7 linked regions of the Homo sapiens genome follow. The protein of the gene in region 4 interacts with the protein of the main gene of each other region in a biochemical or structural test. Each region holds a gene or a part of one and is shown on either strand. Other genes may lie near its edges. The genes, in order: SIPA1L2, PDLIM1, MPP2, ATRNL1, CARD11, GRIP2 and DVL3.

Region 1 (2,835 bases), on a different chromosome or scaffold from region 4:
AGCTGTGGGACTCAGACTGTCTTGGGACTGAGAGTCGTGGTGAGGAATGTCCGGGGAGAGTCAGTATCCAGGGTGGGCTGCAGCTGCTTCTTAGAGTGAAGTGAGTCTATCCAGGGTGGGCTGCAGTTGCTCCTTACAGCAAAGTGAGTGGTCAGCTCTGATTCAGGCCTCCTCTGAGGACCAGTGTCTTTTGGGCCAGTGACCAGGCAGGTGGTATTGAGGAGGGCCTTGGAAGGGCTCAGGAAACGAGGAAGCCTTGAGGGCAGGACCAGATATGCCAAGGGTGGGGGCGTCCACTCACCTCACTCAATGCTCCTGCACAGTGCTGGGGGTGGCATGTGGTGGCTGTAGTGGTTGAGTTAGATCCCGTTACAGAAATACCGATTATTACAATCTGACAGTGACCCCTCTATTCATTTAGGGCAAGGCATCCCTTTCAGCAGGGGGGGAACTGAAACTGCTGCTATACATTTTTTTATTGCTACATGTTGGAAACTCCAGATGTGATTCTTCTGAAAGTCTTGATTATTTTTACACAGTTTTTAATAGCAGATTTTAAGGGTCATTATGGAAATATAGTATAGCAGGAAAGCTTGATGGAATGAAAGACCTAAGTACATATTTTATTATAAACATATGTAACAGCTCTGCTAATTCCAATTTTCTACTTAGAAAGTTTTGTGCATTTGTCAAAAGGGTATTACCTTTAACCTCCCTGTAGTCTCCCTTTTTTGGATAGAGGGTAATATAAACTATGATGAACACCCTTCCTATATAAAGGCTATCTTAGCACCCCATGGGAGCAGAGTGGGATGAAAGAACAGGGTGTGTGGAGTGTTCATTCCCATCCCTTTGTCATCAGCAGGAATCAGGATCAGAAAAGTCCCCTCACTAAAGAAAGTCACCCCTTCTCCCCTCAAAAAGTACATAAGTAAAAATAAGAATCAAAGATTCTCGTAGCCCAGCTTAGGAGGAATGAATGTATCGATCAGTCTCCATGACTCAGTTTATTTCTGCTCTGACCAGGAAAAACAAGACAAGGCCGTTCTCCAAGCAGAAGTGCAGCACCTGAGACAGGACAACATGAGACTGCAGGAGGAGTCCCAGACCGCGACAGCTCAGCTGCGGAAATTCACAGAATGGTTTTTCACCACCATCGACAAAAAATCTTAGCCAATCCGCACCTCATCAAGGGACCACTGGGAAATGCCCCTTGTCCCTTTGAAGTCACAAACATGTGGTTTTTCTGTGTGCTTTCAACCAATCGTAGATGTTTTTGCTGTTCCATTCTGTGTAGCACCATTCACCACAGCAGGATAGGGAGCCTCGACTCTTTCTCGGTAACCACGGCAGAGAGCAGCGCCGATGTGAAGATGAATGAATGTAACTCCTGGTGTGAAGATGAATGTAAACCCTGGCGACAGTTGAGACCTTTTTCTTTTAGACTCTGCTAAAACAGTGCTCTGGCTTGGGCTTACCTCAAGAGGGAAGATAGTTGAGTTTTATTTCCTGTATATCAGGTGACCTGGTAGAGATGTAAAGCAATTTACCATAGTTTGGGCTTTAGTATTGTAAAATAAACATGAGAACAAATAATCAGACATATACTTTAATGTTAAAGGTGCTCTATTTTTTTGGATGTACAGTAGTTTTATTTCCACAGCCACATTACCATAGCAATAAGAAAGGAGGCATAGTACATAGTTGGAAAAGCTTTGTGGGGGGATTAAAAAAAAAAAAAAGCACTGTTGTGTTTAACACTAGTTCAGATGCAGTTACCTTAGAGACTTATTTATTTGCAGGAACAAATGGTGCCTGAATATTAACAGTGTTCTGATTAAAAACAAAAAAAAGATACATATGCCTTGTAAATGGCTCACCGAGTGGTCAGTAGTCACTTCAACTCTTAGTTCACTTTTGTATAGTTGCTCTGCTGGAAAGAAATGAGAGTGAATCTGCTTACTCACTAGAACTTCCCTGTGTGCTGTGAGCCAGCGGAACCACTTGTACAATGCCAGATTTGTTTATCTTTGTACAGAAGCTTTGATGAAGTGTCTTGTATTTAACACCCTTATTTAAGCTTATTTAACCTTAAATTGTTAATTTTATAAAATTTGGTTTGGCCTGCACTACGATGAGGGATGGAGGTAGCTGCAGGCTCAGAAGAGACTGAGCTTGCACAGATCAGACCGAGAAGCAGGGTGAGAGATTCTAACGACTGGATGCTGCTAGTAACACATTGTTTGTATTGCTTTACCATTTTTAACTGTTAGATTTGAGATGAACATACATTTTGCTTTTTTAATAAATGTTTAAAAGAAGTCCACATAAGAAATGGTGTTGTCAGGTGACTAGATTTTTTGTGATCTAACATGTCAACAGTCTGACTGTATGTGAATTTATTTCAGGTCATTTAGAACCTTGATTTGTATTAAATACTGTTCAGCTCCTTTCTCATAGAATCCCAGATCGATTTCAGGAAGGAGTACCTAGCAGTTTTTAATAGCTGCTGTGTGGCGGACACTATTCTCTGAACTTTTCATCCATCTCATTTAACCCCAATGGTATCTATCCTTCATAGGTAGGAGGTGGGGTTCCCATTTACAACCACATGAACTGTGGGTCAAGTGAAGTAATTTACGCAAGACTGCCTTTAAAAAAATAAAATAAAATAACACTTTGGTGTTGCCAGCACTTTGAGAGGCCAAGGCGGGTGGATCACCTGAGGTTAGGAGTTCAAGACCAGCCTGACCAACATGGAGAAACCCTGTCTCTACTAAAAGTACAAAATTAGCCGGGCATGGTGGCACATGCCTGTAATCCCAGCTACTCGGG
Region 2 (3,964 bases), about 20 Mb from region 4:
GGGATTCCAGGCGTGAGCCACGTGTCCGGCCCCTAGAAAATGACAGAGAGTGGTGGGGATGTCTGGGAGAACAGCATTGCAGACAGGGCCCTGAGGCAAGGCCCTGAGTTAGGAGCAAGGAGCACAGCCTGGCAGACTGGGGGGCAGGTGAGGAAAGGGCAGGAGGAGTTGGGGTCAGAGAGGGAGTTGGGGCCATTCTAGGGGTGGCCTTGTAGGCATTGTAAGGATCTGGGTTTTCACTGGTGGTGAGGTGGGGACGCCATGGACAGCATGAGAAATGGTCTGGTCCGGCGTGGAGAATGCACTCCACCGGGAGGGCGTCAGGGGGAGCCTGGCTAGGAAGCTGGTGGGAGGCTGGGAATCCAGGTCCCGGACTCAGCTCTTCTTTTGCATTGACTTGGCCCTTGGCCCGCCCCAAACTTGAGGTTTGAACTGTTGAGGTCAGAACCTACCATGAACTCCAGCCTGGAGGAAAGATTTCTAGGAAGGCCTTGAAGTTCAGTTATAACCTGAGTGATGGTCTCATTAGCATTATAAAAGTTCCAGGATGGGGTTCTGCAGCACTGGGCCCGGGCAGTGGTCCAGATGCTGACGAGTGGTGTAGCGTCGGGCAAGTCTTCTCACCTACTGAGCAGACTCAGTTACTTCATCTGTAAAATGGGACTAAACGTCCCGGTTGCCTCAGCATCAAATGAGATCGTTCGAAAGCACCTTTTAAACATCATTACCGATTACAAAAAGCAAATGGGAAGTCGGAGCCGACCTCAGAGGGCTGACTTGGCACAGCACTTCAAATTTCTCGTTTTACAAAGCACGAGGCGCGAGTTTGTCTCGCTGTCAGGACCTGCTTCCCTCTCACCTAGCACCCGCCCCGGGCCCGAGAGCCGCGGTGCGGCCGTGCGTACAGGAGGGAGGGAGGCGGTGTGGGGTCCCGGGCAGAGCTGCTGAGAGCCCCGGCCCCGCATCTGACTCGCGCTCTCTCGGCGGGACTCCGGGCCAGGGCCCCCAGGCCGGCGCGCAGGGCGGGGAGCGGCTGCGGGCGGGAGGACGGGCGGGGCGGCGGGCGGCTACGCGGCCTGGGCGGAGCCGCCCCCGCCCTGGCCCTCGCGGTTGCCCTGCCCCCGCCAGCCCCAGGCTCCCCGGGCCCGCGCCGCGCCGCTCTTTCTCCGACAGCCGCCGGGGGTGCCCTGCAAGCTGTTCCGCGCGTCCTGCCCGTCTGTCCCCGCGGGTCGTCGCCCGCCACAGCCGCGCCATGACCACCCAGCAGATAGACCTCCAGGGCCCGGGGCCGTGGGGCTTCCGCCTCGTGGGCGGCAAGGACTTCGAGCAGCCTCTCGCCATTTCCCGGGTAAGAGCAGCTGGGACGTGCGTGGAAGCGGGGCGCTATGGGAGGTGATATGCGGAGACTGGGGCCCCGCGGGCGCGGTCGGGGACGGAGTCGGAACCGCAGCCGGGCGCGTCCAGGTGCGCTGTTAGTTGAGCGCTCTCCGCGCGCCCGGGCCCCGCCGCTCCCCGCCGCCCCTTCGCGGAGGCTGCGCTCCCGGGCTGGTCGGCCCGCCGCGGGCGCGCTCCGTGTCCGCCAGAAAAAAAGAAGGCAGTTTTCGTTCTTTGGCCCCGGAAGCGCGGCGGGGCGGGTGTTAGTTCTTTGTCAACCAGCGAGGGGACGAGGGTCCCCGCAGATCCCGCGCGCTGGGAGATGGCACTTCTCCCTTCTTCCCAGATCGCAGTGCAGCCGAACGCAACAGGAAAGACCTGGAAAGTGAGGTGGGGTGGGTGGGAAGTTTACTGGGGTGGGGGGCAAGTGGGATTAACCTAAAAAAACAACCGAAACACGCTCTTTGGACTTGACCCACGGCCGAGGCTCGCCCCTCGAATGGCTTTTGGAGAATGTGCTGGATTCGGGAAATAAACACAACAAACAAACTCAAGTAAACCCTCTTGGTCATTCTCCCCTCTGCAGAACGTGGCCCCGCCGTCATTCTTCCTAGCATTCCCAGATTATCTCTTTCCCCTCCCCGCACCAGCCCTTTTTTCTCAGGGCATGAGTAGATACTGCGATGGGGTGTCCACCTGGGGTGGGGTTGAGGTGCTTGAAATCTAAGAGGGGCTTCGGATCTTTAGAAGGACTCACGTTGAATCAGGGGCCACCAGAACCATTGCCCCCCTAATAAAGTGAAACCCCCAGGGAGACCCAGACTCAGTGTTCAGAGGTCTGGGCTTTGGCCATTTAATCTGGCCAAACACAGGTTGATGTCCCACTAAGAGATGTCACGTTCAGTGCTTGGGCACCAAGAAGAGACTCAGTAAGTACCTCGAATGAGGAAAGGGAGAAAAAGAAGTCCCCTTTCTCCCCACCCATGGCCACTCCTTGCCTGTAGGCGGCACATTCCATTCTTGGGCTCATCTGCCTGCTGAAGCTGCCCTTCAGCTTGTCTCCCAGACTTTCTAAACATCCTTCTTTTTCACTTGGGGTTGGGGGAAGGGTGGAGAAGAAAGGGAAATATCCTTATGGATCCTTTTGACTCAAGCTCCTGCGTCCAGCAGCTGAAGGAGTTTGGTGGGAGGTGCAGGAGAAGAATTGGTGGCCTCCTCTTGACTTGTCTGCCAGCCACAGTCCTACCCATGCTTCTTTCCCGGTTGGCCTGGCCCAGTGAGGAGGTCTTCTCTATCTCACCCCCCTAAAAGAGTAGGCGGGCCAGTTTTTGGGCCTTATCTTCCACCTGTTTGCCTCGTCCCACAGAGACCTCTGATTATTCTCAAAGGTACACACTGCCTTTCCAGCCACCAGCCTAATTCCTCAAGCGCAGGAACTGTGCCTTCCCCAGAATCGTCCCCGAGCCTGGTAGCAGACCTGTACCTGGCCGGGCTGGGTAAATCCTTGCAGGCTTATTAATAAATGCTTGTCCAGGGAGGACATTGTGTCTGCACATTTCAACTCGCTTACCTCATAGTCCATTTGTCCCTGTTCTTTGTGTCTATAATTAACCTGTCAGCCCTCTCCACTTCTGAGATTTATATATGACATGAAACCCTTTTTTAAGTAGTGGAGGATGTATTGGCAATCTGTTAAAAGGGCAGTTACTGCCTTTCACTTTAGCTGCTTTTAAAAGTCTTAATGCATGAGTGAATGATGGAATGGGGTGGAAAACACCACACTGTGAATTCATTGGTTTTTACCTTCATATATTCACTCATTTATTATTTATATTATTTATTTATGGCGTGTGCACGTGTTTAATGAGCACGTATCATATTCCAGAAACTGTGCAAACGCCTCAGAAATGAGAGGGCACAGCTCCATTCTCAAGGTGTTCATGGTCTAGTGATGGAAACTAATCTTTATAATGCCCTTGGCAGGTGCTTTAATTGAAAAGTGGAAGTGACTCAGAAGAGGTAACATTTTCATGCTGACAGTAATTTATTTGTTTCTCTTCAGCTCCTTATTAATACATGGAAAAATTGTGAGCCTGTTCACCTCATGGGAATGGGAAAGTCATTGTCATAAAGGGACCCTGGTGTGGCCATCTGAGATCTGGTGCTGGTCCAGTGTCTTCTTGCTTGAGCTGTACCTGGGGTGAATCTTCCACTGTCTGAGGCTACTTAAAAAAAAAAACCTCTGCAGTGGGGATAGCACCAGCCCTTGGCTGTGAGTTAAGGTATGTGAGAGTGCTCCGTAAATAGTGATAGTGAGGAAATGTGAGCACTGACAAAGAGCTGTACACACTTTCTGATTGGTAGGTATGCTACATTATTTATCATCCTGGGCAATTTGCTGGTATAGTTTTGTATATGATAGACTTTGAGTCTCCACACCAAAGCAAACCATAAAATTAGGCTGGGAGAGGAGTGCCTTTTATTTAAATAACCATGTTTGCTTTCTCTTGCATGAATTATTGTGGTATTGGCTCCAGTCTTTTGCTAAACTGCTAAAGCTTCTTAATATAATGCTAATCTTATGTACTTG
Region 3 (4,051 bases), on a different chromosome or scaffold from region 4:
TTCGGGATAGATTCCCATTTCTGAGATTTCCAAGCAAGTTTCCAGAATGTAATCCATTTCTTTTCTTTTTGTTTCTTTTGAGACAGGGTCTCACTCTGTTGCCCAGGCTGGAGTGCGGTGTTGCAATCTCGGCTCACTGCAGCCTCAGCTTCCCAAGTAGCTGGGACTACAGGCGCGCGCTACCACGCCCAGCTAATTTTGTTTATTTTATTTTTTGTAGCGATGGGGTTTCACTATGTTGCTTGGGCTAGTCTCGAACTCCTAGGCTCAACCGATGCTCCCGCCTCCGACTCCCAAAGTGTTGGGATTATGGGAGTGAGCCACCGCGCCCGGCCAAAGATGCAGTCCATTTATGATCTTAGGAATCCAGTTAGCAAGGAAAAGGGATGACTCTCACATTTTGTTCAGGGCAACTGGACGGGGTGGCTGAACGCCGAGGTCGGAGAAGTAGCGTAGCTGGCCCCAAATGCTAGTCGCACTGCACAGAGCCTCCCGTATTTGGAGGCCCAGCATCTTTTACTAGCAGATGTGGGGTGGAGCCGGAGGCTGGGCGAAGGCGGGCCAGTGGGTTTAACCCTTTATTTACTTTTTGGGCTGGGACTCTGAGGAAGGCTAGCCAGTTACTTCTTTATTCCATAGGCAGGAAAATGGACCAGGCCTCCCTCACCTAGACCTAAAAGAGGCTCTCGAATCCTTTCAGGAAGACATTTCCTCTTTTTTGCAAAATTTCTGGAAAGTCTGGAATCCGGATATCCACCCTCTGAGTCCTTAAAAAGCTGCCCCTGATCCCGAGGCCTTCTGGGGCTGGTATCCTGCTTCCTGGGAGTCTCTCTGAAGTCCTCCTATTCTTTTTCTCAATATGGAAGCAGGATAACGAGGAAAAGTGAGGCACGCCTGGAACTAGAACGCCGGTCTAAGCCAAGATGGGTGGGCGGAGTAATCAAGCCGGTCTCATTAGGCACTTTTACCATCGCCCCTTTAAGGGATCCTTGGGAGCCGAGGGGCACCAGCGGGTACTGGTACCAGTCCTGCCTCCCTAACCCTTCCCAGTGGGACTCCAGCAGGGCGTCGTGGTCTGTGCGGTGTCTCCCAAACCACTACCTGGCTGCCCCCGTACCAGCTGCTGGGAAAGACTACTTCCTCCGAGTTGTGCCGGCCTCCGCGTTCTCCTCACCTCCCCTCTCCTCCGGACCTCCGCCCCCTCGCGGAGAGGCCTTGCCGCTTTAAGAGCCGGGCTAGCGATTGACAAGCAATAAACGCTGAGCGCCCGGCTGCGCTGGAGCCGCCCGGAGCTAGGGGCTTCCCGGGGCGCAGGTAGGCGTCCCCCGGCCCCCGGGCCAGCTCCTATCCCAAGACCTCCGCCTTCTTTTCGTCCTGACACGGCACTTAGGACCCTATTCACTGGGTTTAAACTCCACAGGCCCCTTTCACCCAGGCCCGTTCCCTCCCTGTCCACCCGCCCCCGCCCCTGGGCCCTCTTTCTGGGGTGCTGGTTGGGAGAACCAAGCCCCGCTGCCCATTGACACTGGTCCCCGCCCCTGCGGTAGGGGCTCCAAAGTGGCTTCAGGCACCAAGGTGGTGAGCTGTGAGGGGCCCCGGTATCTGCGCGGCCTCCCCGGGGGCTGTGCGGGTTGGGGGTACTTAGAAGCCCGGCATTACGTAAGAACCGTGCTGTTAGCGCTTCCGGGGGTTGGGGAGCGAGACAGAGGTTGCGCTGGGTCCCGGTGGCCCCCTGGTCCCCCTAGGCAGCTAACACCACAATCTTCCCTGGGAGGGGGTCCGCAGAAGGGCGCGCGCTGCTTCTCCCGCTTCCCAAGCTGTAGCGGGGCGGGTCGGGAGCCAGGGTTAGGGTCTGGAGACTTGGGAGGGGACCGGTGCCAGAAGCGAAGAGCTAGGGTTAGAAAGTTAGGTCAATTAAGGGGGGGGCGGTGCGGATAAAGACGGGGTGGGGGTTGGCCGGGGCAGTCATTTAGTGACCTCATCCCTGGTCTCCGGCGGGCGCGCACGTAGAGAGCCTTCTTTGATGGCTCACAACACGCCCCCCTCCCCCAGGTCCTAGCGCCCAGGGTGTTAGGGCTGGGTCCGTTGGGGCAGGGGTGATCTGATGGTCCAAGCATGCACGTCCGCCTGGCCTTTCGACCCCATCCTCTGGCCCTCAGTTCTGTCCAGACCTCCCCGCGACCTCTCGCTCTCCAAAGCGCCTTTGTCAGACCTTTCTTCTCCGCACCTCTTTGTATGTGTATGGATGGAGGGATGGGTGGGAGGTTGGAAGAAACCTCTCCCTTTCACTGCTGGTCCGCTCGCCTGCGGACACTATGGGTGATGTGGATATCTCGGAGGCAGAGCTGAGAGGGCATCTGGGCCCAGGCTTTTGGAAGCCGAGGTGCAGGTTCCCAGATGTCTGGGTGCAGGACCTTGGCACGGAGCCAGGCTAGCTTGCCTGGCACTGCCGTTCTCCTGTGGACACAGCCAGGCCCCGCCCTCTCAGAGGCTTGGACGGGCGTGGGGGAGCAAAGCCAGCCGATGCTCTGGGAACCGATTCCCCGGGAGAAAACCCAGGCAGGCTGGGCAAGACTTCCGAGCGCAGGGATTTCATACAGGATCCTCCCTGCCTTTTCCCGCCCTCCACGCTCTAGGGAAGGAGGACTTCTGGAGTCCCTTCTCTGACCCTGTGAGGGAGAGCAGCGCCAGCCAGGAGAAGGCTCCAGGTCATCAAGGCCTGGGAGGGGGAGGGAAGGGATCCCTCCTCCCTGCTCTCTAGGAGTAGAGATTGGCACCAGGGGCACGGGCCAGCACAGTGGATCCTGGGCATTTCTTCCAGCCTGGGTGTAGCCTGAATAGGGGTGCCCTTCCTCTCCCTGAAAGCACCTTTATTCCATGTCCTCAGCGGCAGAGCTGGGAGGAAAGGGAACCATCCCCCTCACTTTTGTAATTTCTGTCACCTGAGCTCAGGTGACCAGCTCAGGCCTGAGAAGGGAATGGGAGCAGAGAGGGTTTTATTGAAATCAGGTACTAGTCCTCTGGGAAGAATCCTCTTTTGGGGGGAGGTGGAGTTGCCGTGGTTCCCCCACCCCCAGGACTCAGCAGGCATTCAGTCCTAAAGTGGGCACTGCCAGATGCTTCCCCCCACTCCCCACCCCTGCTGTGAGCCACTGCCTCCTGTTGTCATGGCAACTGGGAATTAGGGTTTTATCCAGCAGCACATGCCCAGGAAGGCAAAGGGAAGAAGGGTGGGGGGTAACCCCCTGCCCTCTCCTGGGAGAACGAGGGAGCCACTCCTAGCCTGGGGAGGCCCTGGAATGGAAACTGGGGCTGTAGACTCCATGCTTGGTTCTGCCCAGAGCACTTGGTCTCCTTGTGCCAGCTCTGAGCTAAGAAAGGGAGAGAGGAGAGAGAGCCAGCCAGAGGGGCCGTGGAGAGGTAGATATCACTCTGTCAGCCCCCCAGATAAATGTGGAACATCGGCGCTTTGGTAGGCCTAGGTTCCAGAAGCAAATAAAATCAATGTGGTTCTGACTCTCAGGGAACCTGCAGTCTAGGAGTACTCATGTTTTCTACTTTGGCTCAAATTCTGGACTCTTTTATTATTTTTTAAATGACTTTTTTTTTTTAAGACAGGTTCTTGCTCTGTTGCCCAGGCTGGAGTGCAGTGGCGCAATCATGGCTTACCGTAGCCTCGACCTCCTGGGCTCAAGAGATCCCCCTGCCTCAGCCCCACAAGTAGCTGGGATCATAGGCATGCACCACCACACCTGGATAATTTTTAATTTTTTTGTAGAGATGGGGGTCTCGCCATGTTGCCCAGGTGGGTCTCAAACTCCTGGGCTCAGGTGATTCTCCTGCCTCAGCCTCCTAAAGTGCTGGGATTATAGGCGTGAGCCACCTTGCTCAGCCAAATTATAGTCTTACCCTCTAAAAATTCTACTTGTTTCCTCTTCAAAAAACAAACAAACAAAAAATACAACAGGAAGAAACACTTTATTTATATACTTATTTTTGAGTCATAAAACCTGGATTTTCATTTTAGCTCTCCTTATTAGCTTTGTGAACT
Region 4 (3,500 bases):
TAGTAGAAAAGAATTCTTCTTGGTAAAGTACATGCAAATAAACCTATGAAAGGTTTATTTGAAGATAGTAGCTTGTTTTACCTGGCATTTGAAGTAATAACACAGTGGGAAAGGCTTTAACTAGAAAATCTCACTTCACTAACTATCTTGAAAATCTTTTTCTAAACTGAAGGATAGCAACCTTACAAACAGACATTAAAAATGATTGATCAATCTTGGTAAGCAGGTGTCAAAATTAATTGGTTGGCTCCATGGTAACTTAGCTTTTTTTCTACTATAGGGATTTCGCCAGGGAATAAAAATGTTCTTCAAATGTTTCTTGAGGATAGAAGATTGATAGTTGGGGGAAGAAATGCAGAAGCAAATATAGTATCAAAAGTGGTACTTCAGTTCTCTTAGCATTGATTCCAGTCTTCTGTTTCCATTTGAAAAGAATAAAGCACTCAGAATAACAAGCCATTCCTTCCTTACACAGGTAAAACAAAAGGAACATTGATTTTTCACCCAAAGCTAGACTAAAGGACTTGGGATTGAGAATAGGAAAATATATTTGAAATATAATAATCAAAGATACAGACTCTAATTCAAGTTGTATTTATTTGAATAGTTCAGTGTAATGTTAAGCAAGAAAATATTCTGCTATAATCTATTTGAATGACGTTCTCTTTTAGAAGGGAGCCCTTGAGAATTAATTTTGTAGAGTAGAGATTTATATAAATTTATATAAATATAAAGAGTATTGCTCTTTATATTAGTCAAATATAAAGGGGTATATTTTTACCCCTCTTAGGTTAGTCAAATTTGGATACTTCATTTCACGCATTTAAAATGGAAGTATGCTGGGTGCCGTGGCTCAGGCCTGTAATCCCAGCACTTTGGGAGGCCGAGGTGGAAGGATCCCTTGAGCCCAGAAGTTTGAGACCAGTCTGGGCAAGATAGTGAGACCTCATCTCTACAAAAAATATTTTAAAAGTAGCTGGGCATGGTGGCACACACCTGTGGTCACAGCTACAAGAGAGAGTGAGGCGGAAGAATTCCTTGAGCTCAGGAGGTTGAGGCTGCAGTGAGCTGTAATCACGCCACTGCGCTCCAGCTTGGGTATCAGAGCGAGACTCTTCTTAAAAATTTATATATACATATATGAAGCATTCTATTTGTAGTGACAGCAAAATGAAGATGTAATGATATAATGTCAGGAATTAGGTTGTTATTATAGACAAAAACGGGCAGAATAAAGTGTGTAAACTCTTCCCCTAAGCTGTTAAAAATATATGCATATTGCCTGGCTTGGTGTCTCACGCCTGTAATCCCAACTCTTTGGGAGACCGAGGCGGGCGGATCATGAGGTCAGGAGATCGAGACCATCCTAGCTAACACAGTGAAACCCCGTCTCTACTAAAAATACAAAAATTAGCTGGGTGTGATGGCACGCACCTGTAGTCCCAGTTACTCAGGAGGCTGAGGCAGGAGAATCGCTTGAACCCAGGAGGCGGAGGTTGCAGTGAGCATAGGTCGCGCAACTGCACTCCAGCCTGGGCAACAGAGCGAGACTCCGTCTCAAAACAAAACAAAAATAAACAACAACAACAAAAAACAAATATATATATATGCATATGTAAATACATATATATTTGGAATCCTTTTTACTTGTAAGGAAACTGACAGTAATTATAAACTTAAACTGAATGTTCCCTGTCCCTAAGACTTCTTTATTTCAAAGTTTTATTTTAATGGATAATTTATATCCATGGATTATTTTTACATTATTAAAGTGTATAATCACACAGTAGGAATTTAAAATAATTTAAATTGAGTGTTTCTTAGATTCTAAATTGATAAGGTAAGTTACTTGTAGAAGCATAGTAGCATGGTTTTCAAGAACACGTGTCTGCATGATTTGGCCCCTTTAGCTGATTAGACTCAGGCCTCCTTTCCTCTGCCCTGACTGGCCTTTTGAAGTTCCTTGAAAGTGTCACATTCCTTTTGGCCTTAGTGCATTTTATACACGTAACTGTGAACTCTTTCCTCTCTGGTCTTTGCTTGGGTGATTACTGATCATCCTTCTAATCTTAGCTTAAATACTAGTTTCTTTTTTTTTTTTTTTTTTTTTTTTTTGAGACCGAGTCTGGCTCTGTCACCCAGGCTGGAGTGCAGTGGCGCAATCTCGGCTCACTGCAAGCTCCGCTTCCTGGGTTCACGCCATTCTCCTGCTTCAGCCTCCCGAGTAGCTGGGACTACAGGCGCCCGCCACTACGCCCGGCTAATTTTTTGTTTAGTAGAGACGGGGTATCACCGTGTTAGCCAGGATGGTCTCGATCTCCTGACCTCGTGATCCACCCGCCTCGGCCTCCTAAAGTGCTGGGATTACAGGCGTGAGCCACTGCGCCTGGCCACTTAAATACTAGTTTCTAAAGGAGGCTTGTCTGACTCTTCACACTAGGTTACCCCTTATATACTGCCCTAATAGCACTATTTTTCCTTCTTAGTATTGTCAAAAATGAGGTGTTTAATTATAATTTTGATAGTTATTTAAACAAAATTTTTAAGAGATTGAGGTATAATTGTCAAACAGCACAATTTAAAATGTACAATTTATTTAAATTATACAATTTGATAAGTTTTGTCATATGTATTTGCATCTGAAACTGTCACCACAATCAAAATCATAAAAATACCAATCACGCTAGAAAGTTTCCATGTGTTTCCTTTGTAAACCCTCCCTTTTCTAGTTGCCAATTCCTGTCCCAGGGCAACTATTGATCTGCTTTCTCTCACTATAGATTTGTTGGTATTTTCTAGAACTTTTTGTAAATAGAATCATACATTATATACTTCTTTTTTGTCTGGCTTCTTTCACACAGCGTGTTTATTTTGAGATTCATTCATGGTGTGTTAGTAGTTTATTCTACTGCCGAATAGTGTTCCAGTGTCTGGATACACCATAATTTGTTTATCCATTCAACTGCTGATGGACATTTGGATTGTTTCAAATTTTTGGCTGTTCCTTATAAAGCTGCTACGAAGTTTCATGTGGAAGCCTTTTTATCTTTGTATGGTCATATGCTTTCCTTTCTCTTGGGGAAATAACCTGAGAATGGCTGGATCATATGGGTAGATATATGTGTAACTGTTAAAGAAACCGACAAACTGTTTTCCAAAGTAGTTGTATCATTTATGTTCCCACCAGCAGTGAGTCAGTGTTCTATCTAGTTAATTTCACATCCATACCAATACTTGGTATGGTTAGTCTTTTAAATTTTTGTGATTCTAATAAGTGAATGGTATATTATTGGGTTTTAGTTTGCATTTCCCGAATTACTAATGATATTGAGTATCTTCTCATGTGCTTACTTGCCATCCGTATATCTTCTGTAATAGGCATTTATTCAAACCTTTTGCATGTTAAAAAAATTTTCTTACTGATTTTTGTGAGTTCTTTACATTTTCTGGATTACTAGCTTCTTATGAGGTATATCATTTGCATATATTTTCTACCAGTC
Region 5 (3,500 bases), on a different chromosome or scaffold from region 4:
CAGCAAGGAAGTGGCCAGGTCAAGCTTGCCTTTTTTTTTTTTGAGATGGAGTCTTGCTCTGTCACCAGGCTGGAGTGCAGTGGCGTGATCTCGGCTCACTGCAACCTCCGCCTCCTGGGCTCAAGCGATTCTCCTGCCTCAGCCTCCCGAGTAGCTGGGACTATGGGCACGCACCACCACGCCTGGCTAATTTTTTTGTATTTTTAGTAGAGACAGGGTTTCACCATGCTGGTCAGGCTGGTCTTGAACTCCTGACCTCGTGATCCACCTGCCTCGACATCCCAAAGTGCTGAGATTACAGGCGTGAACCCTCGCACCTGGCGCCCTGCATCTTCTTATTTATGTTTTTAATTTTAATTTTTTAAATTTTTAAAAATTTTCGCTCTGTTGCCCAGACTGGTCTTGAACTCCTGCCCTAAAGCGATCCTCCCACCTCAGCCTCCCAAAATGCTGAGATTACAGGCATGAGCCACTGTGCCCAGCCCTACCCTGCATCTTCTAACTTCAAAATGAGTGGCTTCCACTCATCACTAAACAGACACAAACACAACAGTAAAAGATGTGGATTATGCTGGGCGTGGGAGGGAACTTCCGGCTTCAAATATATGAAGAGCCAACCGGGCACAGTGGCAAACGGCTGTAATTCCAGCTCTTTGGGAGGCTGAGGCGGGAGGATCGCTTGAGGATAGGAGTTTAAGACCAGCCTGGGAAACAGTGAGACCTCGTCTGTACAAAAAAATTACAAAATTAGTCAGGAATTGTGGTGTGTGCCTTTAGTTCCGCTACCCAGGAGGCTGAAGTGGGAGGACTGCTTGAGCCCAGGAGTTTGAGGCTGCAGTGAGCTGTGATAGTGCCACTGCATTCCAGCCTGGGCGACAGAGTGAGACCCTGTCTCAAAAGCAAAACAAAACTAAACAAAGGACAAGGAGCCATTCATTGCACAGGGAAGCGGCGACTGGTCACAGCCCTCAGTGGGTGCCAGGGGGCACCTGGCTTCTGGTTTGGGGCCCCACAGGGAGGTGGCGACTGGTCACAGCCCTCAGTGGGTGCCAGGGGGCACCTGGCTTCAGGTGTGGGTCTCCACGGGGAGGTGGGGACTGGCCACAGCCCTCAGTGGGCACCAGGGCCCACCTGGCTTCAGGCGTGGGGTCCTGCCCGTCCCGCCCCACCTGGTCCAGGTTGTTGCTGTCCTTGGAGAGGCGCCGCAGCTTGCTCTCCAGGTTGACGATGCAGGCCTCCCGCCGCACCATCTCGATCCTCATCTCGTCGTTCTTCTCCTCCAGCTCGCGGATCTGCTTCCTGTACTTGTCCTTTTCGATTAAGCACTGCGAGTACTGTGTCTGAGCTTCATCTCGGGAGTGGAAGGCCTGCCAGGGAGAAGCGGGACGAAGGCTGCTTTGGGGGTTGCACCCCAGCCAAATCCAGCTGGGCCCAGGGACAGGCATCATCCCAACCCAGGGGCCAGCCACATCGTCTGTGGCTCTCGTCTGCAGTCTGACCCCTGGGCGTGTCAGTCACTACCTTCTTCATTAACGCGATCACAGAGCCGATGGTCCGACCCTTGCTAGTGGCAGGCTCTGTGTTGAGAGCTTTGATGCAGTGTCCCTGGAAGGCCACAGCCTGTCCCTATGAGGCGGTGCTACCGTAATTATCCCCATTTTACAGATGAGGGCACTGAGGTCAGGGGTGGCAGCTTGCCTATGGGCATACACCTTATGAATGACAGGGCTGGATCTGAACCCATCCTCTCACCCGAGAGAACACACAACATTTAAGAACCATGCTTGGTCGTGGGAGCTGCTGGAGCCCAGCTCGGATCCCCCTGCTACCCAAACGCCTGTGACTTCCAAAAAAGCCTTTTGGAATTCATCTTTTAGAATTCATCTTTGGAACAGAAATGGGAAAGATGGATTCAGGAGTGATCCCTGCATTGTCAGTGATGTTGCACTGGACAAAACACTCTGAAGGAGCCGGTGGTCTGGGGTGCGGGCCCCGCTGTGCAGCCTCGCCGCCCTGCACGCTGCAGGTGGTGCCTGTACCTGGTCCCGCTCCCGCTCCACCTCCTCCAGCTGCAGCATGACCGTGTTCATGCGGTGCTTGTACATTTCACAGTCCTTTCCCAGGGTCGAGCACTTGAGCTCCAGGTCCTCCTTCTCCTCCAGGTACTGTGAACCACACAGAGAAATCAATATGCGCATCGAGCAATCAATAGGTCAGGACTGAAAGCTGTTCTCTGCTCGTGCCTTCCCGCCAGCTGGCTGGAGCTGGCCTGTCCCTCCCTAAGCTGGCATGGTCAGGACATGGCCTGCCCTTCTGGGAACCGACTATCTGACTGTTGGGGCTCAAGGTAGGAGACCAATCAACCCAGCATTGTTGTGAACCCACTACAGACCAGGTAACATAGGGGAGGACAATGTGATCTCAGTCAGGAGGGGGACACAGGTGCTAAGCTGGTGCAATAGCTTGTACATGCCCAAGGGTGGCCGGCACATCTGGGATCCTGCAATCCGCAAGGTGTGGGTGAGGCTCTGAGACTCACACCTTGGCAGGTATGTGGGTTCCCCCAATCCCAAGCCCTCACCCTCCCCTCTGCCCACATTGCTCCCACCCCCAGGCCCTCATCTGGTTGATAAACTGCAGCTTCTGCCAGGGGCTGAATACTGGGAGGTACAGGGGATTTATGCCAGGGGTCTGATCTAGTCCCTGGAAAGGAGTGTGGGGTCAGGGAGGTCCTGCTGACACACACCACTGCCCCCTGGTGTGAAGGGGGCCGGCCGAGGGCACCGCTGGGCGGGCGATCCCCACTCCCACCTTGTCTCGCAGCTCCTCTGCCTGGCGGGCCTCCTCCTGCAGGTTGTAGATCCTGTTGACCAGCTCCTGCCTGTCCTCCAGGGCCTCCTTGCGGTCGTGTTCCAAGATGTCCAGGATGGCCTTGTCTGAGTCTGGCAGGCTGCGCTTCCCGGCCTGGGTGGGAGGGAGGAGGTTTCAGAGGGTCAGGGTCGGGGTGGGGAGCCAGGTGGTCCTGGAGGGCAGGGGACAGAAGAACCAGCAACAGATACGGACAGAGCAGAAGGTTTTGTGCCTGGAAGGTAGAGGCAAGAAGAGATGTATGTCCCCTGGGGTCTCTAAGAAGCTTAGCATTTAAGAAGTTTATTGCCTGGAAAGAAGCAGAAAACTGGCTTTTGCTTGGGCGTATCCTGGGCCTTTTGTTCTCCCTGGCGCTTATCGGAGCGCAGAGAAGCAGTTGCTGCACCCGAAACACTTTTTAGATGCTGCCCCTGAAATATCAAGGAATCTGTTCTGGAGAAGCTGGGTTCATCCTCGGCTCTGAAACAGAGCCTCATATACCAGGCAGCCACTCCTGGGGGGACTGTTCTGGAGGGAGCAGGAGGATGCATGTTTTTTTTCTTGCCCTGTAGATATGTTTTGGGATGTCACTCCTCAGCAACTTCCTCCTCTGTGCCCACAAGTGACTCGGCGATGACAAGTGTGGGGAGGCA
Region 6 (3,500 bases), on a different chromosome or scaffold from region 4:
ACCTCACCCTGGGACAGGGCTCCATTCTTACAGCTCCCTCAGCTGCCACAGTTTCAGAGTCTAGGGGCAGCAGGGACAGTCCCCCAATGCCTCAGGAAAGCCCTAGGCAGTGCTGGGACCAGGGTACTGGGGCACTGCCCCATCCTATTCCGCACACAGCAGGCGCTCCAAATAGCCTTGCAGGGCTGACCTTCCAGACACAGGTAGGAGCAGGAAGATGCACACACCTTGGCCCAGTGCTTACCTGGAGCCAGGAGGTCTGCTGGGGTGTGGGCCTCTGCCCTGGCAGGCAGGGGCTGACACTCATTTTACAAATGCAGACCTGAGTCTCAGAGAGGGGAAGTGACTGGCCCAATGTCACCCACAGTGTCAATGTTGGAACAGAGGTCAGAATCTTGCTTGGCTTTGCCATAGCCCCAGCTCTTGCTTCCTGTGTTCCCTGAGCCCACCATGCGTCCCCACAGAGCCCCAGTTCACCTCTCAGCCAGGCCACGCTTGGTGAGGCCTGAGATGACAATGGGGTCAAAAGGTTCCTCCGTGCCCGAAATGGTGATGCCCAGGGGACCCCCGTAGCGCTTCAGCTCCACTGTGTAACTGACGGCACCTGTGGTCTCCAGCTCATCTGCAAGCACGGGGACCCATGAGGAGGAGGCCCCCGAGGGGGTACCCAGCTTCCTAAAGCCTTGGCCTCACTCACTCACTCATACTTATTTATTAATTCATTCACCCAGTCACTCACGCTCTGATTTCATGTAGCACAACCTGGGGACCCTGAGGCCATCTTCTGCCCAAATACCAGTAAAGAAAAGAAACATCACACCTCACCCACAATAATGACAACATTGATGACAAGAAACAGTGGCCTCTTTTCCTCCAGCAGCCAGCAGGAAGCAAAGGGAACCCCGATCATCCGTTGTTTTTTTTTTTTTTTTTTTTTTGAGACAGAGTCTTGCTCTGCTGCCCAGGCTGGAGTGCAATGGCACGATCTCAGTTCACTGCCATACCTCTGCTTCCAGGGTTCAAGTGATCCTCCCACCTCAGCCTCCCAAGTATCTGGGACTACAGGCATGCACCACCAGACCCAGCTAATTTTTGTATTTTTTGTAGAGATGGGGTTTCGCCATGTTGCCCAGGCTGGTCTCGAACTCCTGGGCTTAAGTGCTCCACCCACCTTGGCCTCCCAAAGTGAGGGGTGTACAGGTATGAGCCATTGCACCTGGCCCAACTTTTCTTAAAAGAAAAGAAAAGAAAAGAAAAGAAATCTACCTCCCACAGTAACCTTCTTTCACAGAGTCGGAGTTGGTGATTTGGAGGCTGCCCCTTTGAATCAGGGATTCACTTTCCAGTTGGCGCAGTCCTCACCCGTCCCTTTTGCCTCTCCAATCCATACAGCTTTTCTCACTCATTTATATCACTATCTGGCGTCAGTGGGGCCTGAGTCTGCAGTCTTTGCTTATCCACTCATAGCCTGCCACTCAAAAGGGCAGCCTCGCTCTTCCCCTGCCCTACCCACTCATCTCTCCACCAGCTGCACCAGCTGCACCCAGTAGGTCTCCTCTGCCAGGCTTGGTGCTAGATGTGGAGACTACGGGAGAGTCTCAAACTCCTGTCCACCTCACAGAGGCTCTGGAGGGCCCCAGACGCCGGGGACAGTGAGAAATCTGTGGTGTTGCCCCCTCCTTCATTTGTTCATTCCAGCCAGCCTTCAGCAGCGCCCACCACCCTCCCTTCCTCGGCTGGAGGGAGCCCTGAATTGCAAGCTGGGAACCCGCTAGTCAAAGGGTGGGCCTCTGGAGGTAGGAGGCCAGCATGAGGGCCATACCAGAGTTGTCCTCGTCCTTCCGGATCTTCAGCTTCACCAGGTCCTCGCACTGCCGCAGGATTTGCACGGCGTCCTCCATGGGGCAGTTGTCCAGGCGGATATTGTCAATGGCCAGTAGCTTGTCGCCTGGCTCCAGGGTGCCCGTCCTGCATGAGTCGGGGGCAGAGGGGATGGAAGGAGCCTGGTGCATGCAGGTGCCATACTCACTGCTGTTGGCCACTTCCCTTCCTGTGCCCCAGTGCCCCTACCTGTGTGCCACGCTGCCTTTCTTGATGTCGGAGATGATCAAGGGCTCCCCTCGTTTCCTGCTGGCCGCTGGAGAAAAAGAGGCCATGAATCTGACCTTGGTGGCCTCAGCCTGGGGTGGGGTGGCGAAGCCCAGGGGTCTGAGTGTGGACTCGGAGCCACTGGTCCTACTCACATCCTGGTCCCACTGCTTCCTGGCTGGGTGACCGTGAGCAAATCAGCTCACCTCCCTGTGCATCAGTTTCCCCCCTGTAAAATGGGGGTGGCACCGCAGACCTCATGGGGATGTGGTGAGAGTAAACCAGATAACACAGGCACAAGATCCAGCATGGCCCTTCCAATGCCAGCTCTTCTTTCCTCCTGCTCAGCCCATCCCCCAGCAAACTGCGAGCTCTTTGTGGAGGGGGGCTGTCTGCTTGGTGTCTGTGTCCCCAGCACCGGGCTCAGGGCCAGCACCCAGGCTCTATTGTGTGCTTGGGGGTGGGAGACACAGAAGTGAACAAAACAGACAGCAATCTCTCCCTGCCCTCCTGGAGCTGGCACTCCAGTGGTGGTCACAATCAACAACATTTAAACACCGATGAAGTGAGCTGTGGAGAAACCTGAGAAACGGGCTTGTGTCGAGGGCGGTAAATGTTCAGTCAGGTGGTCGGGGAAGGCCTTGTCAAGTGACATTTGGGCAAAGCCATGAAGGAGGTAGGGAAGAGGCCAGAGGAACGGTCTCAGATGCAAAGGCCCAGAGGCAGGAAGGGGCAGGCATGGCAGGGAGCAGCCAGGCTGACTGCGGCTGGAGGGCTTGAGTTGGGGAGAGTCGGGAGATGAGGTCAGAGGTCATGGGGTCCAGAGCACAGAGGGCCTCACTGGGGCCCGAGGCCCTCAGCTTTTACTCAGAATAAGATGGGAGCCACGGGAGTGCTTTCACCTTTCCCATGCTCACCCATTCTACGTTTTTCTTCTGCATTCCTCATTTTCATTCCTTTGACAAACATGAATTAAGCACCTACTGTGTTCCAGGCCTTTGCTGGGCTCTGAGAACACAGAAGCAGGCAGAAAACCAAACCCAGCCTAAATATTTGTCACCTTCCAATGCTCTCTCACCATGGGCACCTCACAAGCCCCCTGGGAGACCCACGAGGCCAGGGGACTGCCATGGTGCAGAACGGGAAGCTGAAGCTTTGGGAAGCTGGGGTCTCGCTGAGAACACGCAGCTGGGTCCACGGAAGCCAGCCTCCCCACACCCCCAAGCCTTTTCCTCGGGCCCCGCAGGGTGTCACGCCATGGAAATGCTGGTCTGAGCTTGGCAAGCTCTTTTTCCCCAGCAGTTGAGCTCGCTCCCAGGGGCAAACAGCAGCGGGAGGAGACTCACAGCTGATGGTGATGCCCAGCTCCACGCTGCGCTTCTTGGGCAGCTTCACGTGGAAGGTGCCACTGC
Region 7 (3,500 bases), on a different chromosome or scaffold from region 4:
TTCCTGCCACCTCCACCTGCTGCTCAGGGCCTCTGTCTATTCCAGTCCTCGTCCTTCAGCAGCATCACGGACTCCACCATGTCACTCAACATCATCACGGTCACTCTCAACATGGGTGAGTCTGAGGAAACAGCACTCTCAAGCACCTGCTATATGCCAGACACTGGGCAGACTTGAGTTCAGAGAGCGTAGAATATGTTCCCTGCCCTCAAGGAGCTCTCTTTCGTAAACATCAGCTGATACATAAACTGATCATTTTAGTATCTCACCATCAGGGCTATGACAGAGATAAGCACAGAGAGCTGTGGAAGCAGAAAATGGTATCAGGGAAGGCTTCCTGGAGGAAGTGATTTCTGAGTGCCCACTCCTTCACATCTCTCAGCCATTGCATCCTTGCTCTCCGATTTCTGCCCTAGGTACTCTCTTTATGAGACAGCTGGATATAGTAAAAGGAGCCCAACTATGGGATTTAAATCTGAGTTTGATTCCTGGCTCTGCCACTTACTGGCTTAGAAAAGTCATCTTCTAAGTTCACTGAACCTCAGTTGCCTGCTCTGTAAAATGGGACTGAGTCCCTACCTTATAGCCAGCAAGGGTTCCATGGAAGCATGTTTGAGCATGCTGAGTGCAGTGCCTGATTCAGGATCAGCAAATGTCAGTTCAGTTCCTGTCCCTTTCCATTTTCTAATGGGCTGGGAATGCGGGTAGGAACCTTGCTCCCCCTTAAGGTCTTAAATTACTCTCTATAGAAAAATATAACTTCTTGGGCATCTCCATTGTGGGCCAAAGCAACGAGCGTGGTGACGGCGGCATCTACATTGGCTCTATCATGAAGGGTGGGGCCGTGGCTGCTGATGGACGCATCGAGCCAGGAGATATGTTGTTACAGGTATCAGTGCCCATCCTAGGCGGTGGTGTGGATAGAGGGCAGGGAGGTGTCCTACCATCTGTACCCTGCTCCTTCAGAGGCCCCTTCTTGGTTGGGGGAAGACTCCCTGACCTACCAAGTTGAGTTCCCTTTTCATCCTCCCCAGCACAGCTGTTTATCCCACTCCTGGTCCTTTCCCAGGTAAACGAGATCAACTTTGAGAACATGAGTAATGACGATGCAGTCCGGGTACTGCGGGAGATTGTGCACAAACCGGGGTATGGATGGAATGGGGCACTGGGCAAGGGGCTTGGTCTGGCCTATACGCATCCTGCCTTCACTAGGACACCCTTGTTTTCAGGCCCATCACCCTGACTGTAGCCAAGTGCTGGGACCCAAGTCCACGTGGTTGCTTCACATTGCCCAGGAGTAAGTGGATGGGAGACTCAGTCCTAAAGCTGGTGCTTACATACATGAGCACTGTCTCTCCTTTCTTCTCTCACCCAGAACCCCCATATCTATCCTGTTGGGCCCAGCAGTGGGTGGGGTGGGTAGCCCATGACTCCTCATCCTCCCTGCAGGCGAGCCCATCCGGCCCATTGACCCTGCGGCCTGGGTCTCCCACACTGCAGCCATGACCGGCACCTTCCCTGCATACGGCATGAGCCCCTCCCTGAGCACCATCACCTCCACCAGCTCCTCCATCACCAGTTCCATCCCTGACACAGAGCGTGAGTGTCCCACCCTGTCTCCTGGGCCCAGCAGACAGGGCCAGGTGGGGGGACTGATGAGGGTCCATGTGGAGACTCTTGCTTGAGCATCAGAGAGGGCTGGAGATGGGGCTCGGCTCATTCCAGCAACCCCACACTGCAACTCCCCCACAGCGGGCACTCCAACCCTCACTAAACAGTGTTTGCTTCTGAACTTGTATGAGCACCCAGGGCGCCTCAGTTTCCTCTTACAAAATGGGACTCACGATATAAACTTTACCAGGTTCCTGTGGGTTTAATGAGAGGATATAAGTGAAGCACCATTGCGATGTGTGGTGTAAAGTAAGCATTCAGTAAACGGCAGCCATTTCGATTATCATCACATGCACATCGTACACTGGCCAAGCACCTGCATTTACATTATTTAATCCTTTATTCAAATAGCCTTGTAAAGTAGATATTAAAATCCCCATTTTTTACAGAAGGGGAAACTGAGTGTCCAAGAAATCAGTAATTTTCCCAGCATTGATCCCATAATTACTAGATGGTAGAGCTAGAATGCAAACTCTTGTTTACCTAACTCCAAAGCCCCTTTCTGCCTCACCATTCTGCCTCCCACCCCCAGGCCTAGACGACTTCCACTTGTCCATCCACAGTGACATGGCTGCCATCGTAAAAGCCATGGCCTCCCCTGAATCAGGGTTGGAGGTCCGTGACCGCATGTGGCTCAAGATTACCATCCCTAATGCTTTCATCGGTGAGAGAGCCCCATGGTGGGATGCAGGGTGGGTGGGGAGTGATGGGGCAGGGCAGGCCGGAGGGCCCAGGACTTGCCTTGGACCCTTCCTTTGATCTGGAGCCAGCCCCAGCCTCATAGCTTCTGTGAGGCCAGATGAGTCCAAGTCAGATGGGCCTCCCCATCAACTGGCAGCCTTGTCCCCAGGCTCAGATGTGGTGGACTGGCTGTACCACAATGTGGAAGGCTTCACGGACCGGAGGGAGGCCCGCAAGTATGCCAGCAACCTGCTGAAAGCTGGCTTCATCCGCCATACCGTCAACAAGATCACCTTCTCCGAGCAGTGCTACTACATCTTCGGTGACCTCTGCGGCAGTATGTGCCTCCCTCATCTTCTTGCCCTGTCTCCTGGCTGGGAGTGGGGAGGTAGCCAGGGAAGTGGCAGCAGACTCTGGGGAACCCAAACTGGGGGACAGCAGAGCCAGGGGCCCAATTCAAGGCCTGAGAGTTCTATGGTGGAAGAAGAGTCCAGTTTAGCCTCTTCACCTGGCCCACATCTCCCTCTTGGGCCTGGCATTTTCTAAGTGCCTGCTCTGCCTGGTACCATGTTGGTTGTTCCTAAAGCATCATCTTACTCAATATTCACAACCTCCCAGAGGCCCAGCTCAGGAGGATACTGCCAGAATAGGCCTTTTCCTTCTCACTCGTCAAGGTCTCAGCTAGGGTGTTGTAGGCTTAAAGGGAAGAACTGGAGGCCTAGGTAGCCCCGAGGAGCACACAGTCATTCCCTCAAAACAAACAGCCTGGAGGCTCACGTCATCACCAGCTCTGGGCAACAGCTGACAGACCACTGCTTTCCTCCACCACCACTCCCCATGCTGGCTGCTGGCCTCTTGACAGGTTGATGGCTTGGCTGCAGGCTCCACAGGCAGCCTCAGAGCCCTGTCTCCTGACTTCTCTCTTGGAAGGCTGGGGCTGGCTCTTCTTAGGGCTGGGAGGAATGTCTCATCTTAATAGGGCCGGTGGCCTCAAGGGCAGTTGTAGCTCTCTTGGAGCTCTGGGACCTGGTACCGATAGTGTGTGAGCAGAGGGTGTCCCAGGCAGGTATTCAGTCCTGGTGGCCCCTTATATTCTCTTCAATGTAGTTCCAACATTGGTGGGAGTAGCCTTGCCATTAAGGAATGTA

The links.
Region 1: the proteins of ATRNL1 (region 4) and SIPA1L2 interact in a test that uses a peptide from one of them, tested with the Homo sapiens proteins (one large-scale study listed by IntAct).
Region 2: the proteins of ATRNL1 (region 4) and PDLIM1 interact in a test that uses a peptide from one of them, tested with the Homo sapiens proteins (one large-scale study listed by IntAct).
Region 3: the proteins of ATRNL1 (region 4) and MPP2 interact in a test that uses a peptide from one of them, tested with the Homo sapiens proteins (one large-scale study listed by IntAct).
Region 5: the proteins of ATRNL1 (region 4) and CARD11 interact in a test that uses a peptide from one of them, tested with the Homo sapiens proteins (one large-scale study listed by IntAct).
Region 6: the proteins of ATRNL1 (region 4) and GRIP2 interact in a test that uses a peptide from one of them, tested with the Homo sapiens proteins (one large-scale study listed by IntAct).
Region 7: the proteins of ATRNL1 (region 4) and DVL3 interact in a test that uses a peptide from one of them, tested with the Homo sapiens proteins (one large-scale study listed by IntAct).

Annotation. Positions count from the first base shown.
Region 1 is NC_000001.11:232,397,465-232,400,299, reverse strand, and holds the end of SIPA1L2 (signal-induced proliferation-associated 1-like protein 2), read left to right. Parts: intron 1-1,026; coding exon 1,027-1,173; 3' UTR 1,174-2,335; downstream 2,336-2,835.
Region 2 is NC_000010.11:95,288,204-95,292,167, reverse strand, and holds the start of PDLIM1 (PDZ and LIM domain protein 1), read left to right. Parts: upstream 1-1,164; 5' UTR 1,165-1,252; coding exon 1,253-1,348; intron 1,349-3,964. UniProt on the Homo sapiens protein: Cytoskeletal protein that may act as an adapter that brings other proteins (like kinases) to the cytoskeleton. Involved in assembly, disassembly and directioning of stress fibers in fibroblasts.
Region 3 is NC_000017.11:43,904,737-43,908,787, reverse strand, and holds the start of MPP2 (MAGUK p55 subfamily member 2), read left to right. Parts: upstream 1-1,251; 5' UTR 1,252-1,314; exon of another isoform or gene 1,315-1,575; intron 1,576-2,036; exon of another isoform or gene 2,037-2,104; coding exon of another isoform or gene 2,105-2,233; intron 2,234-2,636; exon of another isoform or gene 2,637-2,708; intron 2,709-2,807; exon of another isoform or gene 2,808-3,420; intron 3,421-4,051. UniProt on the Homo sapiens protein: Postsynaptic MAGUK scaffold protein that links CADM1 cell adhesion molecules to core components of the postsynaptic density. In CA1 pyramidal neurons, required for synaptic KCNN2-containing channel function and long-term potentiation expression.
Region 4 is NC_000010.11:115,096,365-115,099,864, forward strand, and holds part of ATRNL1 (attractin-like protein 1 isoform 1 precursor), read left to right. Parts: intron 1-280; exon of another isoform or gene 281-475; intron 476-3,500. UniProt on the Homo sapiens protein: May play a role in melanocortin signaling pathways that regulate energy homeostasis.
Region 5 is NC_000007.14:2,935,868-2,939,367, forward strand, and holds part of CARD11 (caspase recruitment domain-containing protein 11), read right to left. Parts: intron 2,965-3,500; coding exon 2,812-2,964; intron 2,166-2,811; coding exon 2,040-2,165; intron 1,368-2,039; coding exon 1,170-1,367; intron 1-1,169. UniProt on the Homo sapiens protein: Adapter protein that plays a key role in adaptive immune response by transducing the activation of NF-kappa-B downstream of T-cell receptor (TCR) and B-cell receptor (BCR) engagement.
Region 6 is NC_000003.12:14,509,343-14,512,842, forward strand, and holds part of GRIP2 (glutamate receptor-interacting protein 2), read right to left. Parts: coding exon 3,435-3,500; exon of another isoform or gene 3,097-3,434; coding exon of another isoform or gene 3,095-3,096; exon of another isoform or gene 2,351-3,094; intron 2,138-2,350; coding exon 2,071-2,137; intron 1,969-2,070; coding exon 1,823-1,968; intron 623-1,822; coding exon 478-622; intron 1-477.
Region 7 is NC_000003.12:184,165,377-184,168,876, forward strand, and holds part of DVL3 (segment polarity protein dishevelled homolog DVL-3), read left to right. Parts: intron 1-45; coding exon 46-115; intron 116-749; coding exon 750-889; intron 890-1,069; coding exon 1,070-1,146; intron 1,147-1,229; coding exon 1,230-1,297; intron 1,298-1,449; coding exon 1,450-1,599; intron 1,600-2,203; coding exon 2,204-2,335; intron 2,336-2,521; coding exon 2,522-2,689; intron 2,690-3,500. UniProt on the Homo sapiens protein: Involved in the signal transduction pathway mediated by multiple Wnt genes.